Homo sapiens: one gene and its partners. The protein of the gene in region 3 purifies or fractionates together with the protein of the main gene of each other region. This does not show direct contact. Each region holds a gene or a part of one and is shown on either strand. Other genes may lie near its edges.

Region 1 (2,595 bases), about 36 Mb from region 3:
CGCCCCAGAGCTAGAGTGCAGTGGCACCATCTCGGCTCACTGCAACCTCCGCCTCTGAGTTCAAGCGATTCTCCTGCCTCAGCCTCCCAAGTAGCTGGGATTACAGGCACACGCCACTGCACCTGGCTAATTTTTGTATTTTTAGTAGGGACGGGTTTCACCATGTTGGTCAGGCTGGTCTTGAACTCCTGACCTCAGGTAATCCACCTGCCTCGGCCTCCCAGAGTGCTGGGATTATAGGCGGGAGCCAGCGCCCAGCCGGGAGGAGGTGCTCTTAATGCGTAGGATGTGTGCACCCCACCTCCTCTCCCCAGTGTTTTCATCCTCAGGTTGAGCCTGGGGTCCGGGTTTCACAAAAACGTGGATAACAAGGGCATTTGTTATAGAAATAGGAGGCACCTACTCTATGCCATCAGCGTGAGCATACAAAAACAGTTAATTGATTTTTTTTTCTTTTCTTAGACAGCTTGCAGTGTAGCTGGGGAGATAAAACATACCAGTCTCTATAAAGATTTAATTTATTTAAATCACATAAGATTATTCAAAGCCATAGGCATGATTAAGTCTCTATAGAATCAAGAAGATTTTCTGTGTGGAGAATATCTCGTGGAGATTTGAAATGTGTCGCCTCTCCTGAGCAGCCAGGATTAACTCTGCTTAGGACGTTTCAGATAAGGGTCAGGCTGGCGTCCTTCTTTCTGCCTCCATGGGTTGCCACCTTTTGCTATGTCGGGGGGTCGCTTGCTTAAGACGTTGCAAGGAGCACCCCAAATGCCAGGCTTCCCACCATAGCTGGCCCGCTGCAGGGTTCACCAGCCTTGCACTGAGGTCAGCACCTCAGTCACTCTCCATTTTGTCCTTTCCCCATGAAATTGTGGCTTTTAATGTAGGCCAAATGCTATGACACCAATATCAAGTCACGAAAGCAGCCTGTCACCTGTTGAAGCTGAGAGGCAGTGGTGGCTGGGCCAGAGGGGAAGGTGGGCTCCTGGGCGCTGCCCGTGGGCCTCACTCCTCTGCCTCCACTCACACTGGCTCGTGTGACCAGACAGGTTTTCTCTTCTGGAGGAAGGCCGTGATGCCCTCCTGCCCGTCCCGCAGGGCCAGGTTGTCCACCATGGCCTGGGAGGTGAGGTAGTAAGCCGTCCCCAGGTCCTGGGGCAGCTGCTTGTAGAAGGTGGCTTTGCCCAGGGACACCACCGGACGGCTCAGCGATGCGATCTTCCTAGCGATCCGCATGGTCTCCTCCTGCAGCTCCGCCTCTGGCACCACCTTGCTAAGCAGCCCGTGGAGCAGGGCCTCCTGGGCAGAAATGGGCTCACCAGTAAAGAGCATCTCCAAGGCCACCTACGGGGAGACACGGGATGTCACTGAGGTGCTCTCCTGTGACCCGCCCCCGCCACCTGAGTCCCGCCTCGGCTCAATGACCTGCTTCCTCAAATACCACGTCATCCGCCAGCCCTGACGTCTTCAGTGCCCTAACTCCTGCCCGGGAGGAGAGCGGATCTTTCCAAGAGCGAAGAAACCACACCAGGCCCAGGGGAGCAGTGGCTGTCCCGTGTTCTCTTGCTCCTGCAAAGATCTGGTCACTGAGCCCTGCCACGGCTGGGGATTTCGTCTACCTCTTTTGAGGGCCAAGCACAGGACGGCAGCCACATCAGATGGGATGCCCCACAGACACTGCAGTATGGGGGTGGGGTGGCGGGGAGTGGGGGTTCCAGTACCTCTCAGAACCCACTGGGGCCACCTCCCACAATAAGCAGTCACGGGGCTGTCACCTTGGCCTGACTGGAAAGAGCAGACCCAGCCTCCCGGAGAGGCAAGGATTTACAGACAATGTCTTTGGGGACCAGACGTAGAGCCCAGCATGGTTTTAACTCACCAATCGGTAAGATGTGGCAAGGAAAGGATGCCCTCTCCCCTCCTACTACCCTCCCCTGAGGTTCCAGGGCTGGTGAAGAGCGGGGGAGCCCAGCTCCCTCCCTCCTCACCGTGTCCTCTGCTTCACAACCACTGCGTGCTGCACCAACCAATTCTGTTGCACGCTACCAAGCCTGGCTCCTCTAAAGTCAAACTTAAAATGGAAAAGAGGGGTCCCCAGGTGCACAAGGACACACAGGCAGGGGCCCTTCCCTTCCCCACCCGTCACTCAGGCTCTCACAATCCTGGTGGCATCCCTGATGTTCCTCAAATACGCCCATGCACCGTCACCTCAGGGTCCTCGGACTCGCTGGTCCCTCTGCCTGGGGTGACTTTTCCCTGGGTGTCATCCTGGCACACGCCCTCATTGCAGGCCTCTGGTCCTGCATCCCCTATCACTGAGGTCTTCCATGGCCGCCCTGCTCCAAGTGTAAAACGAACCCTGATGCGACTCCCGTCTGGCTACATTTTAAATCTTTTGCACTTCTCTCCATTTAACACCCTATATATTTCACGTTTGTTTATAGTGTATGTCCTTTGTAGCATGTAAACTCCAGTAGGACAGGATTTTTTTTTTTTTTTCCAAGATGGGGTCTCACTATATTACGCAGGCTGGTCTTGAACTCCTGGGCACAAGTGACCCCACGGCCTTGGCCTCTTAAAGTGCTAGGATTA
Region 2 (8,404 bases), on a different chromosome or scaffold from region 3:
TGAGAAAAGTTTTCTGAAATAAAAGGTTTTTTTTTTTTTTTGGAAACCGAGTTTCGCTCTTGTTGGCCAGGCTGGAGTGCAATGGCATGATCTCAACTCAGCGCAACCTCCGCCTCCTGGTTTCAGGCAATTCTCCTGCCTCTGCCTCCCGAGTAGATGGGATTACAGGCATGCACCACCACACCCAACTAATTTTGTGTTTTTAGTGAAGACGGGCTTTCTCCATGTTGGTCAGGCTGGTCTTGAACTCTCGACCTCAGGTGATCCACCTGTCTCGGCCCACCAAAGTGCTGTGATTACAGGCGTGAGCCACCACTCCTGGCCGAACTAAAAGTTTTGAAATAAGTTTAGAAAAGTCATTAATTTTTGGAGGCTAATCTTGTTTGTTATACTTTAGTCATTAATTCAAAGTAAAGGAGTTGTTAATGAACTGGAAACTCCTTTTGAATTATGGTAGCAATCAGAATATTTTTATATTAGCCAGTTTTACCTTGAAGACCTATTTTTAAAAACTACCTGTGTCTCTGGACTTAGTTGCAAATGCATATTAAAACAAAAATCCCCCAATTTCTGTGCTTTCTTATTTGAAAGGCCATTTCTAGGGGGAAAACAGTTCCCAAACACATTATACATGTTGGAAAAGTTTATCTCTAACCTTTTGAATTAAACAATTTCAGAATTGAAAACAGTAAGGTGAATTTTAGGCCAATAACTCTTTTCTATAATCTTGACTCTTTTAAGATTAGGCAGTTCAGATAGTCTTATACTACTGAAAACCTAGCTAGATATCAGAAGTAATTATTAGTGGCAAGAATACCAAAGTTAATACCAAAGTTTTTTTGTTTTGTTTTGTTTTTAGACAGGGTCTCACTCAGTCACCCAGGCTGGAGTGCAGTGGTGCAATCTTGGCTCACTGCAACCTCTGCCTCCCAGGCTCCAGAGATCCTTCCTGCTCAGCCTCTCAAGTAACTGGGACCACAGGCTCGCACCACCATGCCTGGCTACTTTTTTATAGTGACAGGGTCTCACCATGTTGACCAGGCTGGTCTCAAACTTTTGAGCTCTCAAGCGACCCGCCCGCCTTGGCCTCCCAAAATGCTGGGATTACAGACATGAGCCACCACGCCTGGCCCCAAGATACTTTAAACGAGTTTACTAGTTATCTTGTATTAAGTTACCAGCAACTGATAGCACACTTTAATTTAGTCATACAACTTAAGAACTTTGTAAAATATTACTCATTTTTAATTATAACTAAAATGTATTGATTACCTATTCTAGGCCAGCATTATTGTAAGTGGTTCGTATGTCTTAACTCATTTTGTCCTCACAAACATCATATAAGTGGGTACTCGACTTTTATCCTCATTTACGGATAAGAAAAGTTAATTAAAAGTGTGTTGTTTGGGGGGCAGACATTTAGTAATTGTGGAAATTACTGACTTACCAACCCTAAAGATGCCACATTCTTTACGAACGAAGTGAGACGTTTCATTTGGATGTAAGAAGCTTTTGAGTCATCTCAAAGTTGAAAAGTACCAAAATTAATCGAGAGAAAAAAATTAAGTTAATATCATTTTTAAAAGCTGTGCAAGTAATAATTTTTTCTATTACACATCTGCTTTTACAATAAATAAACATTTATACTTTGAGTTATTAAAAGTACAAATTCCTTTTCTGACTCTGCTGTTGACTCTGGGTGAGCATTTAACCTCTTAGTTATATTTTTAATCCATAGAATGGGTGAAATAGCCAAAGATATTAAGTCTGTGACAGTTCAGCAACTCACAGAATGCACCTTTAGAAATGTAAACAGGACATGTATATTCTTCTAGGTAAAGTAGTAACCAAAGAGAAAATCCAGGAAGCCAAAGATGTCTACAAAGAACATTTCCAAGATGATGTCTTTAATGAAAAGGGATGGAACTACATTCTTGAGGTAAAAGATGGTTTCATCTTTTGATCTGTTTTGGTTTTTCTTTCAGTTCAAAACTTCTTGCAAAGGAATTTGTTTTTGTTTTGTGTTTTTTGAGAGAAAGTGTCACTCTGTCACCCAGGCTGGAGTGCAGTGGCACAATCTCGGCTCACTGCAACCTCTGCTTCCTAGGTTCAAGCTATTCTCCTGCCTTAGCCTCCTTAGTAGCTGGGACTACAGGCACGCACCACCACACCTGGCTAATTTTTGTATTTTTAGTAGAGATGGGGTTTTACTGTGTTGGCCAGGCTGGTCTCAAACTCCTGACTTCAAGTGATCTGCCCACCTTGGCCTCCCAAAGTGCTGGGATTACAGGTGTGAGCCACCATCCCCGGCCAGAATTTGAATAAGAGATTAGAGTATCATTACAGTTCTTTTTTGTTTGTGATCTGAATATAATGGCTATTTCATAGCCATTATATATCCTTTTGAAAAGTTATATTATAGCCAATATATCCTTTTGAAAAGTTAAGGTTGACATTTTATCCCTCTCCCCGCATCCCCCATGTTAAATCATTAGCATATAGAATCTACAGCAAGTCTAAGTAATTAATAAAAATGAATTATAACTTAAATAACATTTTTGAGAAAGATAATTCATTCTTGAAAATACACTATAGGTAGGAAAGGGCATGGTTATTTGGCAATTTCAAAATGTAGGTCTGTTTTCTTGACTGAAAATAGATGCTGTGAGTCTATCACTACACATAATTCTGGGAAGTTTCTCACTGTATAGTGAGAATGGCTTGGTGCTGATCCACAAAGTTGATTTTTAGTCTTGATTGTATTATATTTATATCTAGTATGTTTGAATTCATTGCCTAAATATTAAGGCACTCAAAGACATGGTAATAGAATTATAAGAGTTAAATATCCCGTGGTGGTTTCCTTTTATTACAATGATCAGTTGGGAATGGAATCTGTTGGCGTATCTTGATGTTGAGTGTTACTTTTAAGTCTCACAAACGAAAGTTTCTTACATTGAAAAGACTGTCAAACACAGAATAATTAGAAATACTTTAACTTTCATGCCTATATGACAATACTGAGCTATACTATTTGGTACTTATGGGTCTTGAAAAAGTCAGGTAAGTACTCTGTGCTGCACTTTTCCTGTATCTTAAATAAGGTCAATAGAATCTGTGAGCTATCACCTGTACTTGCTCCATTTCTCTTCTGTGAGGTTTGTTGTAAGGATAAATACAGTAATAAGTTAGGTACTATGCTTATTACTATACTGTCCAGTGGCCAGGGCAATAAGTCGTTTGATTATATGATCAGAAAATCTTGGGGAACTAAAGGTTCTCTAGAGATAATCTGGTCTAACCCCATTTTACAAACAGAATCTGAGACCGAGAGATGGCAAGTGACTAGTCCAGGGTCTCCCCGCTGCTTTTGAGTCCAAACTAGGACCTGTAGGGCAATGTTCTTTTTGCTATACACTGTGCCTCCAGTGCTTGTATTAAACAGATTTTTCTTGTATTTAATTACCTTGTCCCAAATCACATAAATAAATTATCAGGATTTCTGAAACAGCTTGCCTTCCTAGTGAAAAGTTAGGCACAGCTCTTAGCTTTAAAAGGGAGGTACAGTGTCACATAACAAATAACCTTCAGCCTAATTTTGGAGGCAATTATTACATTAAGAGGAAGTCAGTTAAGTCATACTCGAGTGTTAATTGCCAAGATTCTGTGTTTGGCCTGTCTCATAGTTTCAGGTCCACGACCAGAATAGAGGGAACCTATTTCGGTTCTTCTGCAGGGATTTCCCTAGCTCTCCTTCTCTCTCGTTTTGTTTTCTTTTGTTCTTTAATAGCAATCCTTTATCTTTCAATCTGCAGCCTTTATTTTGTGAAAATAACGAATTTAGAATAAAGGTAGTGTTCTTGGAATACTTTTAGAATATGTTGGAATAAAGTCATCCTTTCTCATTTTCTGAAAAAGCAGGGAAGAAGCAACAGTTTGGTTTTGATGAGTTTGGAATTTTCTGCCACTTGTAGTGATAAATGTTCTTAGCAGAAGCACGTGGCAGCATTAAACTTAAAAATTAATATCAGTACGTATGTTAATAATTTTAACTAGTTTTATTTTAGAAGGATAAGGATATTCTGACTAGATTACAGTAACATCTACAATTGCAATTTCTATGACAGTAAATTTAGCTTCTATAAAACGTAAAGAACCTTTAGTAAAACAGCAGGGAATTGAGTATCATCTGTTGAATAAATAAATTTATCATTTTATCCTGCCAGAAGTATGATGGGCATCTTCCAATAGAAATAAAAGCTGTTCCTGAGGGCTTTGTCATTCCCAGAGGAAATGTTCTCTTCACGGTGGAAAACACAGATCCAGAGTGTTACTGGCTTACAAATTGGATTGAGGTAAATTGTTTTTTTAATTCTTATTTAACATTAATTGAATAAAGACCATTGAACTGAGATTACAGTTTAGAATTTGTTACTAATAAAGCTATATAATCTCCTATAATTTACTTAACCTTTCCAGGCTTCAATTTCCTCATCTATAAAATGACAGACTAAATAATCTTTAAGGTTTCTTCTAGTAGAATAGAATGTTCTGAGATTTTGTTTAAATCAAATTATTGAGAGTGATTGTTTTTAAAACCTAGTTGGCTTTCATCTAATTCATTGCCATTTTAAGTGTGTATTATTTTAGAGCAAACTTAGAAAAACAGCACATTTCTAGTAACTTACGACATTCGATGAATGATAAATGTTCAAGTTAGACTAAAGGAACTTTATTCCAACTTCTAGTAACTACTTTCTTCATTTTTCTCTCATCAGTTTAGGTCTTAGGATCTACCATCTGTTACTTTTCAGTTTCTCATCTAAATAAAACAAGATCTGCTGTTCATATTGTTTAATTTCTCAGGAAGGGTACATTTTGGGCTTTGGGTTTATACTGCGAGCCTTTTTTTTGTTTTTCTTGTATGTATACCTAAGTAGTCATATGTTTTCACATGGTCAGAGTTTTGATAATAATACTCTACCTAGCTTCTGAACAGTTTAATAATAGATTTAATCCGTGAGAGGAAATACCCTCGAAAGTTACTATAGAAATAACACCTTACTATCTGGTGGCATTTACTTAGTTCTTAGAACTGACTAATTAGTTTATCGGTTAAAGTAATTTGCTATTATATTGTAAAATAGTACATTTGAGGCTCACTTATAAAAATTGGAAAACATCGAAATATAAGAGGTCCAAGAGGGTGTTTGAAACACATTTTGCTAAGTTGACAGGAAATTAATAGACTTTTTATGGGCCATTAACTAATAATACACTCAAAAAAAAGGTACAGTTAAATAAAGGTTTTAAATAGTCTATACCGTATACTAAAACTAAATTAATATTTAGGACTGAAATAACATATTGATTAAGTACCAGCTATGTACCCAAAAAATGCTGGGCACAGAAGTTAGAGTAAGATGTTTTACTTAAAGGGCCTTTGAGTGAGAGTTGGCAATTCATTCTGAACTAACCACTAATATCATTAAGAATTAGTGCTGAGTTGGTAGCAGGAAATAGGTAATTCTGTCTAAAGGAATCATGAAATGGAAAATAAATAAGCTTTTAATAAGGAGAAGGAAGAGCTGAAGAAATGGCACAGTGTTCTTAGAATGACAGATAGTCCTATGGGGACTGCAGCATAAAAGTGAAAAATGTATAAGATAAACCTTTAGATGGTAAGCAAGGCAAGATTCTCAAATTCTGTATGAATCAGCTCCACCTCCGCCCCATGGACAGTAGATGACCGTTAATGGCTTTTAAGGAAAGATGCAACCTGGAAAAAAAGAAAAAAAACTTGTTTTAGAATGGTAACCACTGGCAATATGAAGAATAATTAGACTAAAGAAGAGAGGTAGGATAATCATGGGCATTGGCAGTGGAATTGAAAGAGTAATTTCAGAAGCAGAATGGTCAGATGTTGGAGGTGATTGGTTATAGAGTTTAAGAATTGTACTGATTTTCTATTGTGTAACAAACTACCCCAAAACTTAATGGCTTAAAGCAACTATTATTTCTCCTGATTCTGTGGTTGACTGGATGGTCGTCTGCTGCTCTTGCTTAGACTTAGGCATCTGCATTTAGCTGAGGGTTCAGCCAGGGCTGGACATCCTTTAATGGCCTCATTCCCATGTCTGGGGCCTCAGGTCAGATAGCTGGGACTACCGGGTCTCACTCCAGAAGAGGTTTCTTCAGAGCATGGTAGTCTTGGGGTTCTAAGAGAATGAGAGTAGAAGCTGCAAAACCTCTTGAAACTGGGGCTTGGGAGTCACACATGACTTTCTCCACATTCTGTTCGTCAAAAGCGAATCATAAGGACAGCACAGACTCAAGGGATAAGAAAGGAGATTCCATCTCTTGATGAGAAGAGCTGCAAAGGCCATATTTAATCAGTCACAGGAGTCTAATGCTACAAAGTAGTTTTTTAAAAAGATGACTAGATTGGCAAGTTCAAGGTTAATCTTTTTATTTGTTTTATTTATATATCACTTAGCTGGTATTCAGTAAAAGCTTGCTTTGTAAAATTTAGTTAATATCTTTTTGGTTCAGCACAGACATTGCATCATCTTAGCAGCTCTTTTTCAAACAGATTTGAAGCTGCTTCAAATAACAATCTGGTTTATAAAATGAAAATAGAAAATTATGATCTTAGAATGAAGAAGTGAATTTCTAAGCCATGATAATTATTACGGTTGCTGTGATTAGACAGACTTTTCTGTGGAGCTTCCTGACAACCAAGAAAAAAGGGGAAATCAAGGAACTGTTCTTATCAGAAAGTAGGAACCCAGCAATTCTTTCATTTTCTCATTGGGAACTTAATAGTCACTGAATTACAAAGTAGACAGTGACCTTGATTATACAACATATGCGGAAGTGTTTCCTGTAACTTACGTGAGTATTTTATCAAATACTTATATATTTGATAAAAGCTAAGTACATAAAGCATAACTCAGTAGATAGAATTCTCTAGTAGTAAGCTAAAGTGCTTCAAGTATTAGTTGTCATATTAATCCAAGAGAAAATTAGATCTGAGACTACCTCGAGGAGTAAACGAACAACTTCTTTAAACCAATACTAGTCAAAATGCAGTCCACGGACCAATGCTGGTTCATGCCCTATTTGATCCAAGTCCACATTAAGTACAGAAATGAAGAGTAAGCATTTAGAAACTTGGGGCAATTTGACATTGCCTCAACATCCAAGTTTCAGTGTCCTTTATAAACTATTGATCCATGACAGATCATGAAACTTTCTAAAAATTGATCCTTTTATCACATAGTCTTTCAAAATATTATTTGCTTCTTTGAAGCTTTGGATAGAAACTTGATAATGTGAAGTTCTCTGCTATGTGGACCTGGTGTGCTTATCTTCTTTGTTGCTGATTTGAGAGCTGAGCTATGTACTATATCTGGAATGCACACAGCAGGCATCCTGCTGCGCAGTTCTGTGTCTAGTTAATAGTATGGAAGTTCAGGACATACCTCCAAAAAAAAAAAAAAGCTAGGATTTTCCTCAGAAAGAATGCAGTATTTTATGTCTTAATATTTGTGGTTAATTTTGTTACTACAGACTATTCTTGTTCAGTCCTGGTATCCAATCACAGTGGCCACAAATTCTAGAGAGCAGAAGAAAATATTGGCCAAATATTTGTTAGAAACTTCTGGTAACTTAGATGGTCTGGAATACAAGTTACATGATTTTGGCTACAGAGGAGTCTCTTCCCAAGAGGTAAGTAACTGAAACCAACCTCATTTAATATAATGTGGATTGTTGGTTAGAGTACCACTGTAAACTTTTGGGGACGTTATTGAGATTGATCTTGGTTCTAAAATTCCAAAGATTCAACCAACAGATACATATTCAGTACCTACTACTGTGTTCAGGGTACATGGGATATGTCCTTCAACAGATGTCCCTGTCCTTTATATATTAGATGGATGGACAGATGGATAGCCAGAAACAGACATAATATATCAGATGTGAAATAATGCCATAAAGAAGCTCAAGGCAGGGTAAGGGAAGAGAGAGTGATGAAAAGTGGGGGTGGGACACTGTTAAATAGGTCTCTTTGAGGAGATAATAGTTGATTTTTTAAAATATTTAGGAAAAACTGAATCTTTGTCATTAGGAACTGTTATGTCTGACAATAAATACTTTCCTAAGAGAAAGACAATTCTTATGGGAGCTATGCTATATTCCTTAAATGTGGTTGGCTGCATCCTGGTATTATTAATGTGGGTTTCTTTCTGTTTTGGATTTTGGTTTATGATTGATTTTCCAGACTGCTGGCATAGGAGCATCTGCTCACTTGGTTAACTTCAAAGGAACAGATACAGTAGCAGGACTTGCTCTAATTAAAAAATATTATGGAACGAAAGATCCTGTTCCAGGCTATTCTGTT
Region 3 (8,216 bases):
GGCCCCTTTGCTTCCTTCCCCAGGTGCCATGGGGGTCACCTGGAGGGAGTCAGCACATGGGGCCGTGACCCCTTACACCCATGCTGCTCCAGCTCTGACCCCAGGCAGAGAGAGCTTCCCCTCTAATCTGAGGAGACCTCTTGCTTCCAGGCCTGTCCCACATTTCTCTGCTGGCAGGGAGGCAGTGGGGGTGATGTCCATTCTGCCCCATCAGGGGAGATGATCAACTTCATGACTCTGCTTAAGCAGATCCCCTTGCTGGGCATGTACTTGGACTTGACCAAATTTCCTTGGCTGCAGCTCTTCTCAAGGCTCCTGTTTGGCCACATGAGGCCTGTTTTGGGGTGGGCTGCAAAAGAACCCATCGAACCAGTGGTCAGGGGAGCTTGCAGGGCAGAGAGATCCTCTAAGTCCTTCCTTCCTTCCTTTCTTTCTTTTTTCTTTTTCTTTTTTTTTTTTGACAGAGTCTCGCTCTATCACCCAGGCTGGAGTGCAGTGGCACTATCTCTGCTCACTGCAATCTCTGCCTCCCGGGTTCACGCCATTCTCCTGGCTCAGCCTCCTGAGTAAGCTGGGACTGCAGGGGCCCGCCACCATGCCCAGCTAATTTTTTTGTATTTTTTAGTAGAGACAGGGTTTCACCGTGTTAGCCAGGATGGCCTCGATCTCCTGACCTCGTGATCTGCCCACCTCGTTCTCCCAAAGTGCTGGGATTACAGACTGAGCCACCACGCCTGGCCCCTCTAAATCCTTTCTAAAGAGTTTTGGCAGAAAGCAGCTAGGCAATGGCTCAGAACTGAAAGCAAGTCTGCACACAGAGCAGGACTTGAACTGAAAGAAAGGAATAAGAATTCTCACCCAGGGCTGGGATCCAAGAGACGCACACTGATACAACTACTAAAAGGTTGTTAAACTCCCGAAGGGCCCCTGCCTTGCTGTGTTACAGTCTGATTGTGTATTGTTGAAGCCCTTACCCCCAGTTTGCTGGTGTTTGGAGATGAGCCTTTGGAAGCTAATTAGGGTTAGATGAGGTTATGAGGGCGGGGCCCTCATGATGGTATAGTGATCTTATGAAAAGAGCAGGAGAGAGAGAGAGAGCTCTTCCCCCCGTGAACACGTGTAAGCACAGAGGAAAGGTCATGGGAGGACGTGTCAAAAAGGCAGCCGTCCGCAAGCCAGGAAGAGGCCCTCCCCAGGAACTGAATTGATCTTAGACTTCCCAGCCTCCAGAACTGTGCAAAATAAGTGTCTGTTATTTAAGCCACCTATTTATGGTATTTTGTATGTCAGTCTGAAAAGACTAAGACATGTTGGTGAATAGCTGCTGCACCCCCAACACCCAGGAGCCTCCCCTGGGGCCCCACAGACACCCTGCCATCCAGCACTAAGGGTTGAGGCCTGGCCCTGCAGGGGCCGCTACTCGAGCTCTGCTCCACCCCTGCAGACAGCAGCCATTCAGGTGAGTGGGTTGTGCTGCACCAGTTGTTAAATATTCTGAGCACCACTTGTGGTGGATTTAAAAACAGTCCCCAGATTCGTTGACACTCTTCTCATTGACAGATTGGGTCTGTGTCCCCTTTCCTTGAAGCTGGGGTGGCTTGTGGTGTCTTCAACTGATAGGGCACCGGGGAAGTGATGCCATGTGACTCCTGACGCTAACTCACAGAAGGCAATGTGGTGTCCTTCTTGTCCACTGGGAGACGGTGGAGCCCTACCACTTGCTACCCTGAGGCCACCATGCTGGAGAAGCTACGTGTAGGAGTGCAGGGGACAGTCCCAGTTGAGCCTGGCCTTCCAGCCATCTCACCAGGGGCCCAACATGTGAGTGAAGAGGCATCCAGATGGTTGCACCCCTCTGCCCTAGAGTCACCCAACCTTCAGGTCTTCCCAACTGAGACTGAGTCCCCTTACTTGTTGGGTCAGAGACAAGCACCTTGCTGTGCCCTCCAGAACTGCTGACCCACAGAATCTGTGAACATTATACATGAGGATTTTATGCTACTGGCTCTGGGGTGGTTCGAAAGGCAGCAGTTGTAACTGGGAGCCCACCCTGTATAGAAATGTGAGGAAACTGAGGCTCAGAGAGTAAGTGACTCAGTCACTGATATAGTTTGGATATCCCCTCCAAATTTCATGTTGAAATGTGATCCCCAGTGTTGGAGGTGGGGCCTGGTGGGAGGTGTTTAGGTCAGGGGGCGGATCCCTCATCGCCTGATGCTGTCCTCACCATCTTGAGCTCTAACAGGATCTGGCTGTTTAAAAGTGTGTGGCACCTCCCCCCACCTCTCTTGCTCCCACTCTCGCTACGTGATGTTGGCTCCCCCTTCACCTTCTGCCATGACTGTAAGGTCCCTCCAGAGGCCTCCCCAGAAGCTGAGCAGATGCCGGCACCATGCTTCCTATATAGCCTGCAGGACTGTGAGCCAATTAAACCCCCTTTTTAAATAAATTACCCAGACTCAGGTATTGCTTTATGGCAACACAAGAATAGCCTAACACAGTCAAAGTCATGGAGCTGGTGCAGGGCAGAGCCAGAATCTGCCTCCCGTCCAAGTGAATTCAGAGCCCACGCTATTCCCATCTCCCTGATCAGGCTGGTTCCTGGGCACACGCTTACCCCTCAGGGCCACTTGAGGGGAAGTTTGCAAACTGGAGCATGTTCAGGGGTGATGGCCCCAAACAGGCTCCAGGAGGGACCACTGAAGGGACTGGGGACACTGGGCTTTGACAGAGGTCATCGCAGAATTTGTGGGCCTTCTTCAGATATCCAAAATGTTGTTACTGGGAGGGAATAAGTGTTGTGGCCCTAGATGGCAGAGGTGTGGGCTTGATGCGGCTGATTTTGGTTCAGGTAAAGCAAGAACTTTGCTGGTCACATCCATTGGAAAAAGATTGGGCTGTCAAAGGACGCAGTGAGTCCCATCTTTGGAGGCAGCCAAGTGCACCCGGAGTACTCAACTGCACCCTGAGTATCGCCAGTACACCCTGAGTACCCAAGTGCACCCCAAGCACACCAAGGACCACCCCTGGGTGGATGCCAAGGGGGTAGTCAGGCCACAGGTTGGAACAGCACCAGCTGACTTTAAATCCCTCTCTAACCCTGAGATACAAGGATGTAGCCTACACATCAGGAGGTGAATAGAATCTACCCTCATTTGCAAGAGTTGTCCCCAGGGCAGCGGTGGCTGCAGCCCATCCAGTGTTCCCACTGGGAGATGCCCATGAGGTGCTCAGGTACAGCCCATCCAGTGTTCCCACTGGGAGATGCCCACGAGGCGCTCAGGCTTCGTGGCTCCCCAAAGCTCTGTTTCTGACAAATTAAATTGGTCCTACACTGGTCCCTGCTAAACATCCAAAGATACTTTGAGTTGAATACAAATCTTTATTATTTTGAAAACCACAGCAAAGGCACTTCAGAATCTCCAGGTACCCAGTCTCAGTTGCCGTTCAGTGGGGACAAGAGTGGTGCTGAGGGCATGGTCACACCCTTCTGTGCTGCATGCAGAGGGGTGCAAGGCCAGGGCAGCTGACCTGGTCAGCCACCAGGGGAGCCCACGCCTCTTATAACACAGTGTCCTTGGGTCAGGAATTTGTAGTTTATTTTGTTATTAAGATGGCGAGAGAATTTTTCGTCCATTTAGAGCCTAACATTTTTAGATGAATGTTAATGGCATCTCGGTTGGGATGGATTCGTGTTCGTTTCTCAGCTGCTGAAGGATGTGTGTTCTAAAACAAAAGGGCTCCCAGCCAGCTCTCCGGCTGCATGATAGAGAAGTGTTTTGTAAGACGCTTGTTAAAAACCCATATTCCCTGGCCCCTCTTGTGGAGACCCTGTTTCAGTAGATGGGAATGGGGCTGGGGTCTGTATAACCTGTGCCCAGGAGACTCTGTGACCAGCTTGGGAAGCTCCTGCAGGGAGGAAGGAATGATCCACAAGTCCCCAAGCCCTTCATGCTGAGGCATCTGTCTGGCTGGAGAAACACTAAGGTTGGCATTGTGCTCACACTGGGAAATGACCTGGAGGAAGTTGGGAAGAGGAGTCCAGGCCGGTTCCACCCTCTGGGTCAGAAACCCGGCTGGAAAGCACTGGAAATAGGGAAATAGAAGACCGAAAGGCTGGGACCCCCCTCACACCCAACCTGCGTCCATGGCCGAGGTTGAGTGAGGAGTCCTGGAGACTCTGGCTTCATGGTCTTTGCTCTTGTTCTTCTGTGCCTCAGGGGTCGCTGCCCACCAGGCTCAGCAGGGCGTTCTTGTAGTCACCGCTGGTGTCTTCCTGTGGGCAGGAGGCGCATAAGCGTGAGAAGGGGTTTGCTTGTGCCTGGCTCGGCAGTGGCGGCTGTGTTATTATGACTAAGAGGTGTGCCCCTGGCCTGCACCTGGCCCGGCCCTCCAGGGTTCCTAGCCGCAGGGGTTGTGCCATCACCCCTCTTTCCTTGTTTTTAATTTCAGGCTATTCCTTTACATTTCCTTTTGATTCTCTTACCAACTACATGCAGGATTGATGTGGAAAATGAATCAGAGACAGTTCCACTCCTAAACAAGGAAGGGGTCAGCTGTCCCAGGGTTCTTCTATTCGGGAGCCAGGGTGCCCAGCCATTCATTTACACAACAGGATGCATCATTATTCAACACCTGCTGTGGCAGCTTGGGAATCAAGGCTGAGAGTGAGGCATCAGCACACACCTGGGGGCAGGGCCGGGGGTGGAGGGAGCCTGGACCATCGCACCCTGACGGTGTGGCCGAGGCAAGCCCCTTCACCTCTGTGGGACTCATCTATGAAATGAGATCAATGCTGTGCTGCTGTGCATCTTGCTGAGACGTGGTGAGGGTACAGCAGGAGGAAGGCGAGCTGGTCTGCCCTGCATCTGGCTCACATCGGGTCCACAGTGTTTGTCTCCTGATGAGACTGACCTTGTGGTCCGATGACTGAGGAGCCCTGTTTCTTAGATAGTGGTAGGTCCTGATGGGACTGGCTAGTCCGGGGTCTGCATACAGAGCTGGGAAATGGGCCAGGTCAGATCACCCAGATTCTTCTTCATGCAGTTGAGGACAGCGGGGCCAAGAGAGGGGAGTGAATTCATTCACAACGGCATGGTGAGTAAGGGGTAGACTGGGGCTAGACCCACTTTCCACACTCTGGACCAGTTTAGGTCTCATGGTTATTGTCTACTTTTCACCATTTAGTAAAATTTGCCTGTTTTGAGCCTGAAATCTCATTACGGGTTTCAAACTACAATGAAATTTTTTTTAACTTTTTCCTTTCTAGACACGATCTCACTCTGTCACCCAGGCTGGAGTGCAGTGATGCAGTCCTAGCTCACGGCAGCCTTGGACTCCTGGGCTCAAGCGATCCTCCCGCGTTGGCCTCCCAAAGCACTGGGATTACGGGTGTGGGCCACTACGCCTGGTGATTTTTATTATTTTGAGGACAATTTTTCGAATAGTTTTTAGAAAGAAAAGCATTAATTTTGTTTACTTTTTCAAATACATGAGTTATACTTGGAGTGTTTATACATTTGCCTCTTAATTTCAATGCAGGAGTTTTTAACTCATATTAGTGTTGAAAACCATTTTTGCTTTAATGACATCTGTGGTCTACACTAAAAAGAAACGTTTGGTCAATGTATTCATGATTCTAACTCAATTTTCTTAAGTAACAACATTAGATAAAATTTGAAGAGGGTGGCTTCATGTATCTGTAGAAATCTCTCTGATGCCGTAAGTTACCATGTGTGGTTAAAAGGGTTAATGACAATCAGCTCAGACTGTCTGCAGGTGACAGCACAGTCCAGGCTGGTGTGTGCCTTGCCCTCCTGTCTCCCGACAAGATTGGCTGGGGAGCCTCAAGTGAAACCAAGAATAATTCCAATCCTCTCTTGCCCCTGCCCACCTGTTTCAAGATGTTGCCATCTTGAAACATCTGGAAACAGAAATGTCTTTTCCACCTATTGTCAGCTATGTGTTTCTTGAAAAGTGCACTTAACAACGACATTTGCAGAAGAGCTAGAGACTTGACTTAGTAGCCAAAGAAAACTTGGGGATACATTTGTCCTAATGTGACTTCTGCTAATGAAATCATCAAGACCTCAATTTGCAGACACCCCCAGAAGAGCTGTTTCTCCCAATTATCGCAGCGTGATAATCAGTCTGTGTTTTGAAGGCTCCAGAACTTTTGCTAATTGGAATCTGGTTAGATAGTCTATTGGCGCTCATCTGACTTATCTCCTTAGAAGTTGGCCGCCAGGACTACTTAAATCTGGATTTGAGCGGTGGGCCCGATTCCTACCGGACTAGTTCATCTCATTGACTTTTCAGAGGTGGCTTCTTCTGCAAGGATTTGGTGTCTTTTCCAAGGAGCAACCATAACTTAAATGTGAAACCAACTTTCTGAGTGGGACACAGGGGAGCCTCTGTGCCCTGGTCTCTGCATCTCCCCTCTGCCCCCCATTCCCCTTGGGATCCAGCCACACTGACCTCTGCTGTTCCCTGCACACACCACATGGTCATGAATGCAAGCACATGGTGCCCACTGGGAAGGGAGGGGCTCACGTAGTGTTGGCCACAGCCTCCAGGTTTCCCTGAATGTCTGGGTTTCAGGCTGGCCTCAGCATTGGGAATGCCTGCTTACCATGATCATGCTGCTGAGGGTCTTGCCGTACATCTTCTTGAAGTGACATTTGATAAGATTTAAGTCAATCTCGCTCCTTGAAACGATGTTTCTTATCAGGGTCCCATCACGCGTCCCTGCTCCCTGGGCAAGACAGCAGCCATCAACAATCCTGCCTCACCTTTCCTGTCCATCTCTGAGTGATGGACGGATCTGTGTGGTTGGGTTCTGGGGCTTTTAGAGGGAGGGAGATGTGGGAAGGAGCCTGTGCTTCAGCCAGGGAAGCATTAGGAGGGAAGCTTTGGTGGCTTAGGGTGTCCACTCCCTTAATTCCTTCTCACCCACTGCCCAGAACTCTTCCTTTATGATGCCAAGTGCTCCAAACTGCAGTATGTTTGGTTTGCCACATCAGATTCTAGACACAAAATACTCACTGCTCCAGGAACAAGACTTCCTACTAGAGCAATGGCAGCAATCAGCTCAGCCAGGAATTTCACAGGCAGGGCCTTCCTGCTCACCTTCATCCCTGACCAGTCTCATGTCAGCTGGGGCCACATGGCCAAGGGAATCGCATGCCCTCTCTCATTTCCTGGGCAGAAGTGGCCAGAGGGCTTGGGTTTCGGGTGTGGAACTAACTTCAGGGGATATCAGCAACCATCAATCAGAGAAAACGGGCAATGGTTTTAGTTTCAGGGAATTATTCACCTCTGGAGATGCAGCGTCCCTTTCCCAGACTCAATTTCACCTCCGAGAACTAAAACCTTTCTGATCCACGACAGGTTTGGGTAAGATAACTCCCCCGTGTGGAGGATCGTGGTGGCTTTGAGCTCCTTGGCTTTGCACTTGGTGCTATGTAGGGTGAGCGTCAGGAAGAAGAAGACAGGACAGTTACCTTCATGGCATAGTAGAGTCTCTCTGCAAAGTAGCTGTGGAGGTTTTGGGTGCATTTCACTGGCAAACAAGAAAGCTGTGTTAATGTCTGGAGCTGGTAGGTGGCACTGCCTACAACTTTATGTCTTGCCTTAGGTCTTAAGAGTCAGTGTTGTGCAAGGCTTGGCATATTTCTTTGTTCCGTGCCTTTCCCAATGTGAGAGGCTTTGTGTCAGGTGGCGTGGGACAGGGAAGGTAGCCCGGGGCACTGGGCACAGCTCCAAAGGCCCAAGCAGGCAGGCAAAAGGGTAAGATGTGAAATGCACCAGACTGTGGGGCTCGTCTGAAGACACCAGCTCAAGCCCATCCAAGGGCAGCTCAGACTCAGGACAGGCCCTGGGCTCTCAACCCAGAGACACCTCCACCAAAAATCCAGCCTCTCAGCTCCACAGAAGCACCATGGGATGGTGGCTGCTGGCCTCAGAGTGCCCTCTCTCTCACACTTATCAGCAGGAACCCTGCATTTTGAATTCCCATGTGACAAGTGGAGTTTGGCCCCACAGGACTAAGGCACCTGGGGGCGTCTGGTCCAGAGACTGGGCCCATGCTTGCTCCCATGGGTACTGCTCAGAGACTTGGCATCTGGGTGGGGAAGGTTGGCATTTTCACTTAGGGCTGCAGAAGGAGCATGGGCTTTGAGTGAGGTAGGCATGTGTTCACTTCCTGCCTTGATGGT
Region 4 (5,911 bases), on a different chromosome or scaffold from region 3:
AGCCTGTGTGTGCCACTGAGGTTAGTATACTGAGTGAAAGAGGTGAGTTAGTATAATGCACAGTACATCCAATGTGATCCCTTTTGTGACTGTTGTTTTTTACATAAGCCAAAGTTTAGAAGGTGGACTCAAGGATGGACCAGATCAGGATGGGCCAGGTCATGCTGTGATCACAGACAACCCCAAAATCTCCTGACTTATGACACCAAAGATGGACTTGCTGTTCCCACTTCATGCCCATCACAGGGTATATTCTTTGGCTCCATGCGGCCTTCATTCTGGGACACAGGCTGCTAGTACAGCTGCTGCCTGGGGCAATTATCAGTCATTGTGGCAGAGGGAAAAGAGGTCATGGTGAAGCTCACATTGGCTCCTGACGCTGCCAGGGGATTGTGCAGTGTCAGTGTTGTCGCCAGTGAGGTTTACCCAAGATGTGATTATTGCTGATTGAAAACTTTTCCCACTACCCCACCATGATGACTTGAAATATAGTCAACATTGGCAGTTTTTGACAGTCTTTATGGAGACTAAACTTTGTTGGTAAATAAAAGTTGAAAAAAAAATGACTAGGTGCAGCGGCTCACATGTCTAATCCCAGCGCTTTGGGAGGCCGAGGTGGGAGAATCACTTGAGCTCAGGAGTTTGAGACCAGCCTGAGCAACATAGCAAGACTTCATCTCTACTAAAAAGAAAAGTTAAAAAATTAGCCAGGCGTGGTGGTGCACACCTGTAGTCCCAGCTACTCAGAAAGCTGAGGCAGGAGGATCACTTGAGTCTGGGAGGTTGAGGCTGCAGTGAGCCATGATCGCACCACTGCACTCCAGTCTGGGTGACAGAGTACGACTCTGTCTCCAAAAGACAAACCTTTCTTGGGAATGATGCCTTCCATTTATTCACATTTCAGCGGCCAGAGCCTGTCACGTGCACATGCCTGACATCAGCGGGGTAGGAGGGGCAGCAAATATTTGCAAGCAGGAGCACAGTCTGCCCAGCATGCCCTACAGGCTGGTGACAGGGGGAGCAGCAACAGTCTCAGGTGCTGGATCCTGAAATCTGACCCCGGGGCCCTGGGGTTATAGGTGCATGGGAGCCAGACAGACCCAGCTGCAAATTTTCAGCACCGCTGCTGATTGTCTCTGGGACGTCAGGTAAATCACGTGGCCTCTGTGAGCCTCAGTTTACGGTTCTGTCAAGTAGTCATCATGATAATTCCCATCTCACTGTTCTTGTGGGGCTTAAATGAGATGATTCCATGTTTCACCCTGAGGACAGTGCCTAGCACAAGTAAAAATAATGTTAGCTATTATCACTCTTCTTTTTTTTTTTTTTCCGAGACGGAGTTTCGCGCTTGTTGCCCAGACTGGAGTGCAATGGTGTGATCTCGGCTCACTGCAACCTCTGCCTCCCGGGTTCAAGCGAGTCTCCTCATTATTACTATTCTTAACACTTACCTGTTCCTGGCTACCATTTCTCCATGGCGGGCCTGACTAGGTGAGATTTTCGGGACAGATAATGGGAGGTACAGATAGTCAGCCAGCCGGGTAGAGAAGGCAAACAAACCCCTTGGTGTGTGTGGGAGGGGGTCCAGAAGAGGGCAGACACAAGACCAAGTGGGCAAAGGGAGAAAAGGCCAGTTCTCGCATCAGCTATTCTAATGAGCTCTAAAACACGAGCCATCGTCTCTCAGTTGAGGAGGAGCGGGAGGTTGGAGAAACCTCAGTTGTGGATTCTTCCTTGGTCAGATATTGACCAAGCATCTGCAGTGCGAGGCGCTGCTCAACAGAGAACCTCAGCCCCGCCTTCCTGAGCTGCAGAGTGCAGGGAGCAGAACCTCAGCCCCACCTTCCTGAGCTGCAGAGTGCAGGGAGCAGGCAGCACTCACTGGGCAGCTACGAGGGTGGGAGCAGGCTTGGGGCAAGTGCCCAGGGTGGGGCCTGCCACTGGCCTGGTCACGGGGCATCCCTCGGCAAGCAGGTACTTCTGCACACCTCCTGTGAGGCAGGCATGGGGCATCCGCTATGATGGAGACAGACTGTGTCCCAGCCTGCACAGCCCTCCCTTTGGTCCAGAGGGGAAGACACACCAGACGGGAATCACATACTGGTGTGTTTAGTTCTAACTGTAAGATGTGCCAGGAAGATGGGCTGGATATTCTCCATTGGCCCTTTCAAATCCCTTCTCTTCACCTTCTCTTTATGCATGGGAGGCTGACCTTATCACCTGGTGGCTGTGCCACCTCGATTCGTTGGTCTTCTGGCATTCAGGTGGGTCCAGCCAGTGGGAGGCACCAGTAGGTGATAGGAGAGTGAGTGCAGAGAGCTCATGAGTGTGTGTGACCCTGTTCCCCAGTGGTGCATGGCTCTGGTGGCAGCTGGGCTCCCTACCTAACTCCCTCCCTGCTGAGTGACTCCAGAATTCAGCTCCCTCCAGGGTGAGTTGTACCTTCCCCGACCCTTGCCCTTCAGGCTCCTGCATTTCCCTGAAACTCTGCCCATACCTCTGTGAATTGTCCCTTCCCAAAGCCCTCCTCCAGGAATCCCTGCAGCGCGCCACTGTCTCCTGCTGGGGCACTGACTGGTGCAGGAGGGAAGTGCAGGGTTCTGAGGGAGGCAGAGCCAGGGTCCTGACCTGTGTCGGGGGGCAGTTTGCTTTCTCTGCCTTATGAGGGAAGTCCTCCCCAGCCTTCAAAGTCTCCCCTCCAGCATCACCTCCTCCAGGAAGCCCTCCCTGCCTCTCTAGCCAAGGTCAGATTAGGCTTCTATTGCTCTTTCCTTCAGAGCACTGATCTCAGTTTGCACCTTCACATTCAGGAGTATGTCTAATCTGATTACCTATCACACTCCTGAATATCACGCTCCTGAACATGAAGGTGTAAGCTTTGCCTGAAGTCCCAGAGACACTCAGCAGCGGTGCAGAATTTGCACCTGGGTCTGTCTGGTTCCCACTCACCTATCACCACAGGGCTGCGGGTCAGAGCTCAGGATCCAGCACTTGAGACTGTCACTGCTCACCCTGTCACCAACTTGCTGGAGAGAGCCTGGGTCAGCTTCTGTTCACCACTGACTCTCCTGGGCCTGGCCAGAGTAGCTGTTCAAAAGGAATTCTTGACTGGAAATAATGAGCATCCGAAAAGGCATTTCAAGAAACAAATACCACCGCCCCCAAATGGAAGGCTATAATGTTCTTATTGTTAGCAAGAAAAATAACATGGCTATTATAGCTAAATTAACTAAATGGCCTGCCACCTGAGAATCTATTGTTTATGGCAAGACAGGGCCTAGGGACATTACATTACAGGCAAATTCTTTTTCCTTTTTCTTCATAGGTTTGCTCTGGAATTAGTCACAGAAAAGGGCCATACATTTGCCGAAGAGCTTCAGAAAGTGAGTAACACCATCTCACCCAAGCTGGGAATCTTCAGCCCCGGTGGCCATCACGGGACTCAGCATCCAGCCACCAGTTACTCTTTGTGTCACCTGGGGCTAGTTACTCTCCCTCTGTGAGCTCCATTTCTTCATCTGTAAAATGCGGACAGGCCAGGTATGGTGGCTCACACCTGCAATCTCAGCTACTTGGGAGACTGAGGCAGGAAGATCACTTGAGGCCAGGAGCCTAGGTAACATAATAAGACCCTGACTCTACAAAATATTTGAAAATTAGCCAGGCATAGTGGTGAATGCCTGTAGCCTTAGCTACTCAGGAAACTGAGGTAGGAGGATCTCTTGAGCCCAGGAGGTCAAGGCTGCAGTGAGCTGTGATCATGCCACTGCACTCCTGCCTGGGCAAGAGATTGAGACCCTGTCTCAGGCCGAGCACCATGGTTCAATTAAGCCTGTAATCCCAGCACTTTGGGCGGCCAAGGTGGGAGCATCACTTCAAGCCAGGAGTTCAAGACCAGCCTGGGCAACTTAGGGAGACCCTGTCTCTACAAAAAAAAAAAAAAATTAAAAATTAGCCAAGTATGGTGGCATGCACCCATAGTCCCAGCAACTTACAAGGCTGAGGTGGGAGAATCGCTTGAGTCTTACAGGTTGAGGCTGCAGTGAGATGTGATTACACCACTGCACTGTAGCCTGGGCAACAGAGTGGGATCCTGTCTTTAAAAAAAAAAAAAAAAAAAAACCTCTGTCTCCAAAACAAACAACTGGAGACATATAATCTTCCTTCACAGGCGAGTGGGGAGGATTGTACTAAATGAGGGAATTTAAAATGCAACGGTTCTCAACCCAGGGCCATTCTGCCCCTCAGGGCCCGCTGAGCAATATCTGGAGACATTTTTGGTTGCCACATCTGGGTGTTGGGGGTGTTGCTGGCATGTAAATATCCTGCAATGCAGGGGACAGCCCCCGTCAACGAAGAATGACCCGGCCTTGAATGGCAATAGCACCGAGGCTGAGAAAGCCGGTGTGAAGTGCCTCGCTCATGCCCGATGCAGAGGGAACCTGGGAAGCCTAGCTGCAGTGAGCCCTCAGCCCGTGGGACTCATGCGTCACAGTGTCACTGTTCTGTTCCCTAAGAAGGAGGGGGCCTCTGACCCACGCAGAGAACTTCAAGCACGGAGACAGGGTCACCACCCCAGAATGCCCAGGGTGCCGCACTTTCCACCTCCACATGGACCCAGGTCCCCAGAAACCGCTCCCCGCAGGGTCAGCCCTTCCCACTTCCGTTCTGAAGCCCAGGCTGGAGCCTGCTCAGGCCCCTGGGAACAGACGGAGGGTAGTAGGTGGGGCTGCCACAGGCTGTGGCTGCAGGAGGAAGCCTCAGCTGCCAGAACATTCTGTGTGGTGGAGGAAGGCTTTCAACCTCCTGAGGAGCCGCGGTAGCAGCGGTCATTTCTGTCTGCTGTACGCGTTGGGTCGCAGCTGTCACGTCACCTCCTCAAGGGCCTTCCCTGGCCACCTAATCTCCAGCTGGGTTAGGCACTGCTCCTGGATTTCCACATCCTCTAACCACAGGCATCACAAGGGGTGTTAACCTGTTCACCCATCCACCTCCCACCCAGCCTTGGCACTGTGAGGGCGGGGACAGTGTCTGGTTCACCTGGGAGCCCCGCCTGGCCTGGTAGCCGCTCGCAGGGCCTGTGGATGAGGCCGGGCAGCAATGCCACTGCTTTCCTCATATCACCCATTTCACCCTCACAGACACCCGTGAGGTGGAAGTTAATGTCCACAGCTTATAGGGAGCCAAACTGAGCCTCAGAAAGGCTGACTTGCCCAGCCCCCACAGCCAGGCATCAGTAGAGCTGGAATCTGATTCCCAAACTGGTGCCATTTCTCCCCAGCCCTTGGGGTACACGCTGCACGTGGCCAACCAAGTGGGTAGTATTATCACTCCCGCTTTGACTGTGAAAGTGCAGAGACCCCAAGCAGGGAAGCAGCTTGCCCAAGGTCTGCTGGTCAGAAGCCCTGGGAAGGTTCCAGCCCAGTGCTGGATGGGCAGCCTCTGCTCTCACACACCATGGCCTGCTTCTTGAATGCTGTCACAGTGGCCATCTTAGGAGAGGTCAGAAGTCGCAGACCTTCACCCTCCTGGTAGCCCACCATCCAGCTTGAGTGGACCCTGGCTGGGCACAAAGTCAGAGGTGGTACTTGTGGTCTTCACATGCATGAGAGCTGTTGGACATTTGTCATGCAGGGGCCTGGAGTCCTGCAGCAGACCTTAACAGACCACTTCTGTTCCAAGCAAACCCACTCCCCACCTGGACAGAGCACAGGCCTCACCCAGCCAGGCTTCCTGCTCCCAGAATCCCCACACGCCTCGGCTGACTACATTCTCCAAGCTCCTTGTCCTTTAGAGTTTAGAAAGCACTGTCACATTTGACCTCTTGGCCCAACTGTTACAGGTTAGAAAACCAAAGCTGTCAAATGTTGAGAAAAGAAGAAAACCTCACAGGGCCTAGGTGCACAGGAGA

What was found.
Region 1: the proteins of ANXA8 (region 3) and ECHDC3 fractionate together in Homo sapiens (co-fractionation; one large-scale study listed by BioGRID). This does not show direct contact.
Region 2: the proteins of ANXA8 (region 3) and NAMPT fractionate together in Homo sapiens (co-fractionation; one large-scale study listed by BioGRID). This does not show direct contact.
Region 4: the proteins of ANXA8 (region 3) and MMAB fractionate together in Homo sapiens (co-fractionation; one large-scale study listed by BioGRID). This does not show direct contact.

The regions. Positions count from the first base shown.
Region 1 is NC_000010.11:11,761,976-11,764,570, reverse strand, and holds the end of ECHDC3 (enoyl-CoA hydratase domain-containing protein 3, mitochondrial precursor), read right to left. Parts: intron 1,348-2,595; coding exon 1,027-1,347; 3' UTR 501-1,026; downstream 1-500. UniProt on the Homo sapiens protein: May play a role in fatty acid biosynthesis and insulin sensitivity.
Region 2 is NC_000007.14:106,268,481-106,276,884, reverse strand, and holds part of NAMPT (nicotinamide phosphoribosyltransferase precursor), read left to right. Parts: intron 1-1,835; coding exon 1,836-1,939; intron 1,940-4,226; coding exon 4,227-4,355; intron 4,356-7,572; coding exon 7,573-7,731; intron 7,732-8,284; coding exon 8,285-8,404.
Region 3 is NC_000010.11:47,464,631-47,472,846, forward strand, and holds the end of ANXA8 (annexin A8), read right to left. Parts: exon of another isoform or gene 7,569-8,216; intron 7,562-7,568; coding exon 7,503-7,561; intron 6,755-7,502; coding exon 6,632-6,754; intron 4,277-6,631; coding exon 4,217-4,276; 3' UTR 3,363-4,216; downstream 1-3,362. UniProt on the Homo sapiens protein: This protein is an anticoagulant protein that acts as an indirect inhibitor of the thromboplastin-specific complex, which is involved in the blood coagulation cascade.
Region 4 is NC_000012.12:109,562,591-109,568,501, reverse strand, and holds part of MMAB (corrinoid adenosyltransferase MMAB precursor), read left to right. Parts: exon of another isoform or gene 1-199; coding exon of another isoform or gene 200-247; intron 248-925; exon of another isoform or gene 926-1,148; intron 1,149-1,334; exon of another isoform or gene 1,335-1,474; coding exon of another isoform or gene 1,475-1,491; intron 1,492-3,325; coding exon 3,326-3,383; intron 3,384-5,911. UniProt on the Homo sapiens protein: Converts cob(I)alamin to adenosylcobalamin (adenosylcob(III)alamin), a coenzyme for methylmalonyl-CoA mutase, therefore participates in the final step of the vitamin B12 conversion.